Homo sapiens: one gene and its partner. The protein of the gene in region 2 purifies or fractionates together with the protein of the main gene of each other region. This does not show direct contact. Each region holds a gene or a part of one and is shown on either strand. Other genes may lie near its edges.

Region 1 (3,273 bases), on a different chromosome or scaffold from region 2:
AACCAGACATGATCCCTGCCTTCATAGAGCTTAATTCTCATGGAAGATACAGACAGTAATCAAGTGATTAAAAAAAAAAAAAAGTGAAATTATAGCAGTGCAAGTACAAAAGACTATGAGAAATATAATAAGTATTTGAGGAGTATTGAGGAAGGAAACAGATCAGATCTAAAAGGTTAACATGAGTTATCTTAATAAAGAGCAGAGGGAAAAACATCTCAGGCAGATGGAACAGCAACAGCGTTAGGGTAGGTGGGAACATGACCAGGGGAAGAGTTGAAAGAAATATGGTGTGGTCAGAGCACAGTGAGTACAAGCTTGTGTGGGTGAAGTCAGTGAGGCCAAAGAGAGAAATAAGAGCCAGAAATGCTGGACTTTTATAAATTATATAAAGGAATTGTTTCATTTATTGTGTAGAGGAAGCCTTTGAAAGATCTTAAGCAATGGCAGGAGAACATGAGTTATACATTTTGAAAACATCACCTCGTCTCTAAGGTGACCAGCAAATAATAGGAGCAGGAGTTAGACTGTTGTCTAAACAAGACATGATGGTAGTGTGGACTTGGAGTAGAGAAGGAGAGAAGTAGACCGACGGGAGAGATTTTGGAGTAAAATCAGCAACACCAGGCACCTGATTGAACAAAGGAGTGGGGAGGTATCAAGGATCACCCCCAGCTCTGCATGGAGGTTGTCCACAGAAGTGGGGGGACTTGCAGGAGAAACGGTAACACGGCATTTCTTGTAGTCTTTCTCACCACATAGCATCTACTGTGCACAGCCCTTTGTGACAGTGTGTCTGCCTACCCTACCAGAGGTACCCTGTTATGCAACTGTAGAAATCTAAAGCAACAAAATTGTACAGTAAGAAAGGCAGTTGCCAAATCATTTAAAACCTTGAGCACTATTTGCCAGAGTTTATAAACCTCTACTTTGTGATTAAGAAAAAATCTATCCATTCTCATCAACTACATCAAAATTAGATCAAGTTGACAGTCTAAAAGTGTTCTTAGGGAGATAGGTAGGCACAGAAACATTTGGAATAAAAACATGTTTGAAATATTCTCTTCATTAAATAGTATTTAACAAACATTTAAGGACCTTCTATTGGCTAGCTAACACTTGCATGGAACTCTCTCACTATGTTGCCCAAACTGGCCTTGAACTCCTAGGCTCAAGCAATCCTCCTAAGCATCAAGGACTACAGGTGCATGCTAGCTACCACACCCAGCTGTAATCACCTTTTGATTTTGTCTGCTAGTGCCAGAGGCATATGCATAATGTGAATTCATCAAACTGCAAATAAAAATGTTTGAGTCCTTTTTTAATATGTGGATCTCTCTGGTACTGTTTTTAGATAAATAAAAGAGTAGCCTAGAAGAATACATAAATCAAAAACTGACCAATTCAGAATTAAATGAGATAGTCCCAGCTTGAATTAATACCAGTCTTTAAAAAAATAAATGTGAGTTTTTACTTTTAATTATAAAAGGTAATCTAAATTACCTTAAACTAAGGTAATTGCCAAGACCAGTTATGGTAGATTTACTTTTATAAATATAATAATTGTAAAATAAATATTGTTTATAAGCAAATAGATGCAGCTAAAGTCCTTTTTAAAGGCTCACAGAAAGCTTTCCAAAGATGATTAAATATTCTCTAAAATACTATTTGTTTAGCACACCATTTATTTTGAAAAACAGGACAAAAGAAAACTCAATCAGCCCGTGTTTGATTCACTTTGAATTTCAAATTGAAGAATTCCAAATAAAACTTTATTACCTCTCAGTTTAACTATGGTTTGTCTAATAGTTCATTTTAGGACAAAATGGGGAGTAAACTTCTCCAACTCTGAGGTGAAATACACCATCTTCATGACCAAACACGGTGAATCACGTTGCCATTTTTCATTCTTCACATCTCTCCTGTCTTAACCTCCTTTCCACTTCCAGCTGTGCTTGGTTTTTGTGTATTTTTGTAATAGGATGAATGTTGTTTTCATTTTCTTTCTCAGAGGTGCAAAATGCAGGAGCAGAGAGTGTGGATTCTCAGCCAGGTCCTTGGCACGCCTCCTCAGGCAAGGATGTGCCTGAGTGCAAAACTCAGTAGACTCCTCTTTGTCACTTCTCTGGAGATCCAGCATTCCTTATTTGGAAATGACTTTGTTTATGTGTCTATCCCTGGTAATGATGTTGTAGTGCAGCTTAATTTCAATTCAGTCTTTACTTTGCCACTAGAGTTGAAAGATAAGGGAACAGGAAATGAATGCATTGTGGTAATTTAGAATGGTGATAGCAATACCTTCTTCTTGCATATGGTAATACTTTTAAAAGTTGAATTGTTTTATTTATTTGTATATTTTGTAAAGAATAAAGTTATTGAAAGAAATGTAAAGTTATCTACATGACTTAGCATATTCCAAAGCATAATACATACATTAATATAAAACATCATTTTATTAACAAAATTGTAAATGTTTTTAATACCTTACACATTCAATAAATGTTTAGTAGTTCTGAATCACCGCTCTTCTATATAATGTTAATGGTTTCTTGGTGAGGTAGTCTCTCTTGTTGACTCAGTATTTTGCTATGAAAATATACACAAGTTTTCTGGATCTGGATTTAAATTCTTAAAGGATAGCAGAGGCTATGTCCTCTTAACTTTCCAGTTCTAATATTCCTTTTACTGTAATAACCACAGAAGTTCTTTCTCACATTTCTGGTAACCTACCTATCCCAATCCCTATACAAACTCTCTAAATTGGTTGGTTTATTATAGACTTTGTTTTTCATTGCCCCTCACTCCCAGCCTGGAGGAACCTATAGATCATTTATTCTACCTCTTCATTGTAGACATAAGGAAACAGTACCAGAGTTTTTATCAAAGTAAAGTTTTCTAAACCTGGAGTCCCCACAGATAGATAAAGCATATATGGATGGACTTCTTGTAATCTGTAAAATTTTTGAAATTTTTTATGAACTTTTTTGTGTGGATTTATTTGGGGGGAGGGGATACTGGGGTTTATACTTTGTTTTATCATATTCTTAGAGGGGCCCGTGATCCTGTAAAAATCTAAGAACTATGGTTTTAGAGGATATTTGATATTACTTTTATACCATATGACTTTGAAAAACCACTTAAAACAAGTTGCATTAGGTTATAGAACAGAGGTAAAGTGATTTCAAGTCATTCTCGGCTCTTTGGTAAGATTCATTCAAAGGGAGAGATTATTGATTGCATCATATCTAGTATTTCAAAGTCTGTGGATTGGAT
Region 2 (4,012 bases):
TTACAACTGCCTACAGTATTCAGTACAGTAACATGCTGTCCATGTTTGTAGTCTAGGGGCAATAGGCTACACTGTATAGCCTACACATATAGTAGGCTGTAACATCTAGGTCTGTGTAAGTACTATGACATTCACACAACAACAACATTGCCTAAAGATGCATTTCTCAGAACTCATCCCCGTCATTAAGCAACATATGACTGTATATGTATTCTTCATACCTTTTCTGGAATGTCACTGAGACAGAATCTACATCCAGTTATGTCACCTTTAACATGCTGAATAAATTTTTATTTATTTATTTATTTTTGAGACAGGGTCTCACTCTGTCACCCAGGCTGCAGTAGAGTGGCGTGACTTCAGCTCACGGCAACCTCCGCCTCTTGGGCTCAAGCAATCCTCCCACCTCAGCCTCCTAAGTAGCTGGGACTACAGGTGCGTGCCACCATGCTTGGCTAGTTTTTTAGTTTTTTTGTAGAGGTGAGGTCTCACTATATTGTCCAGGCTGGTCTCGAACTCCTGGGCTCAAGCGATCCTCCCGCCTCAGCTTCCCAAAGTACTGAAATTACAGGCATGAGCCACCATACCAGCCTGAATAAAATTAATGTAGGAGTTCTACATTATGAGCCAATTGAATATAGATAGTCATCTCGTCAACATCAACACATTGATCATCTTCTTCCTTCCTTGTACTAAATTTGCTGCCATAAATCTTCCCAGAATCTGGGCTATGTTGCCCTGGACTGGCTTACTCCAAGGCCTTCAATGACACTTGATGCTTTTACAGGCAGACTGCCAGGCAACACACAAAATGGTTCTCAAACCAACATGTCTGACCACAGCCATTCCTTTGAGTTTCAGACCTACTATTTGCTAACCACCTGACCAACTCTGAAAAAGACCTAGTTTGCTGAACTTTGTTCGCTCCAGCTAGCCTACCAATATCAAGTCTCATTATGTTATTACAAAATCACATAAGCTCAGCACATAGCCACATTTGCTCCTAAAATTCATTTTGCCTTTACACTTAACAATGGGTCAGTTTTAAGGGCACTATCTGACCTTTTCCCAAAGGAAGTTTGGCATCCTTAATTTAGAATAGCTTTAACATTTCTGCTAACTCTGCTATTTACATACCCTAAGAGCCTTAACTCTCTACTGCCATTAAAGTTCAGTTTCCTCATCAAAAATATTCCATAAAGAATTCTGTCTGGCAAAGCTGTGGTGAAGATTAGAAGTGCTGCGCAGCACAGTATCTGGCATACAGTACCTCCATAAACATTGGCCATCGTTAATTGTCACTTCAAGCCCAGACACATGTATGCTCCTCTGGCATGTGGCTTCTGAATGAGCTAAGGACACTTAGAACCCTACTATTCCCCCCACAAACTACAAGGCCACACTGCAGATGAAGGGCCCATGTGACACACAGTAAAGCCTGCCTAGGGTGGAGGCCAACACTAGCATCTAGCTACAATCTACTGTTGCTAAGCGTTTTATGAAAGTCATTTCATTTAATCTTCACAATTCTGTGAATTCAATGTTAGTTATTTCCACTTTATAGATGAGGAAAATGGAGGTTTAGAAAAATTGAAAAACTTGCCCTAACTGGAGAGCCAGAAAGTAGCAGAACTAGAGTAGCTACAAGCCTGCAATCTTTTAAGGTTGACTACCTTCTATTTATTTTTTAACTGACAGATAAAATTGTATGTATTTATCAATGTATAACATGTTTTGAAGTATATATACATTGTGGAAGGGCTAAGTCTAATTCACATATGCATTATCTCACAGTTACCATTTTTGTAGTAAGAACACTTAACAGTCACTCTCTTAGCATTCTTCAAGAATATAGTATATGGGCCAGGCACGATGGCTCACACCTGTAATCCCAGCACTTTGGGAGGCCGAGGCAGGTGGATCACTTGAGGCCAGGAGTTTGAGACCACCCTGGCTAACATGGTAAAACCCTATCTCTAATAAAAAGACAAAAAAAATTAGCCAGGCATGGTGGTGCATACAGCATGTAGTCCCAGCTACTCGGGAGTCTGAGGCATGACAATCACTTGAACCCTTGAACCCAGGAAGTAGAAGTAGCAGTGAGCTGAGATCATGCCACCGCACTCCAGCCTGGGCAACAAAGTGAGACTCTGTCTCCAAAACAAACAAAAAAAAGAATATATGGTCACTGACTATAGTCTCCATGTTGTACAACAGACCTCAAGAACTTATTCCTCCAAAACGAATTTTGTATCTTTTGACCATCATCTCCCCAAAGCCCCTCCCAACCACCCCAGATCCTGGTGCCTGCCATTCAACTCTATATTTCTATGAGAGCAACATTTTTAGATTCCACACATGAGTGAGATCATGCACTATTTGTCTTTCTGGGCCTGGCTTATTTCACTTAACATCCTCCAGGTTCATCCATGCTGGTGCAAATGACAGGATGTCCTTTATGGCTGAAGAGTATTTCATTATGTATGTATACCACATTTTCTTTATCCACCATCAGCTAATGGACACTTAGGTTAATTCCATATCCTAGCTATTGTGAACAGTGCTGCAATAAACATGGGAGTGCAGATATCTCTTCAACATACTGATTTCATTTCTAAGTCAGCATTCTTAATAGCTACACTACCCTGTGTCACACCAGAGCTGGCTGTTGAGACTTTCCACCATCTACTTTGACCTGACCACCCTCTTCCACATTATTAAGAGGTTCCCGGCTGAGTCTTTGCTGCTAATGCCTCTTGTTCTGTGCTTCCCCTCCCATCCACCAATGACTTGCAAGTTTTTTTTTTTTTTCCACATTGTCAGGGATAGTTGTAAAAACTAGTCTCAATGTGTATACCCCCTTTTTTTCCTCATCAGTAAAACAAATTTTACCTTTGCTGCTACACAATTTTTTACTCCAGCTGGTTTAAGTCCCATTTCAAATAACAGAGGTTTATCTCTATAGGCTGGCTGATCTATGCAAAAATGAGGTGTTACCACTGAATAGTTTTTATGCCAACAGTGATTTTTAATGAATGAAGTGAATTCAATCAGTCCATCTGCAGATGTAGATAAAAGGCTAAACGCTGCTTTCCTTGAGTAATTCGTTTGTTGTTTACTATATTAAGTTAAGCTTTCCCATCCAAGCTTAGACATTAAGCCAACCCTTTACCTCTTCAAATTCACTTCAGGGCTCCATCCACACTACCTGCAGGATGTTTCCCAGCACACCCCTTGCTTGATAGACTTGCCTTAACTCATATATTTCCTAAGACTCATCAGGGTCACTTTACTTGTTCCCATCTTTCTAATTAGTTCACAAAGAACTAACCCGCGTATTCTAAAAACTTCTAAAATGCTTGTTACTAGAATAAAAAAGGTTAACAAAACAAAAATAGAGCAAAATGAAATAAACTATTAGAGCAAGAATTCCTTAAAATTCAGAACTAAATACAAACAAGTTTATCATCAACAGAGTATTTATGAAAAATTTTTCATCTCTGGTTCTCTTGGGCTTTAATGCAAGTAAAATAATTTAAAAAGTAAATCAATTCTACCAAACATGTATCACACTGGCCTCTGTGAATCACCTGTTTGAATTAGCCACATCTCCAGTGACAGGTGTACTTAATTCAGATTCTCCCAAAGGAACCTAATATCCACCAACTAGCCAGAATTAAAAAGAAAACAAAATTAATCAATAAAATGAGCAGTTAATGATAAATAAAAGTAACTTACCTACTTCAGTGAGTTGATGTCTTTCTAATGTTAAATTCTTTGGATCCTTAATAAAATGAAAGGGTTGTATTTTTATTCCTTCAATTTGAGGGAATAATAAAGCAAAACCAGATTCTCCAATTTCTATTTCCTGAGGTCGATTGCTACCTGATCCCATTGGAGTCACTAGAGAAAAAGTTAAACAGTTTCACCAATAGAGTCAGTAAAAACTAGATAACTACAGTTTAGGTCACTAAGATAATCATTAAGCTAACAAGCCACTATCTGAGTAAAA

What was found. Proteins that work in one complex are often made in the same cells at the same time.
Region 1: the proteins of FBXO22 (region 2) and CENPE purify together in Homo sapiens (affinity purification with mass spectrometry, with the first as the bait; one study listed by BioGRID). This does not show direct contact.

What each region holds. Positions count from the first base shown.
Region 1 is NC_000004.12:103,105,055-103,108,327, reverse strand, and holds the end of CENPE (centromere-associated protein E isoform 1 precursor), read left to right. Parts: intron 1-2,011; coding exon 2,012-2,106; 3' UTR 2,107-2,517; downstream 2,518-3,273. UniProt on the Homo sapiens protein: Microtubule plus-end-directed kinetochore motor which plays an important role in chromosome congression, microtubule-kinetochore conjugation and spindle assembly checkpoint activation.
Region 2 is NC_000015.10:75,917,121-75,921,132, reverse strand, and holds part of FBXO22 (F-box only protein 22), read right to left. Parts: intron 3,904-4,012; coding exon 3,739-3,903; intron 1-3,738. UniProt on the Homo sapiens protein: Substrate-recognition component of the SCF (SKP1-CUL1-F-box protein)-type E3 ubiquitin ligase complex that is implicated in the control of various cellular processes such as cell cycle control, transcriptional regulation, DNA damage repair, and apoptosis.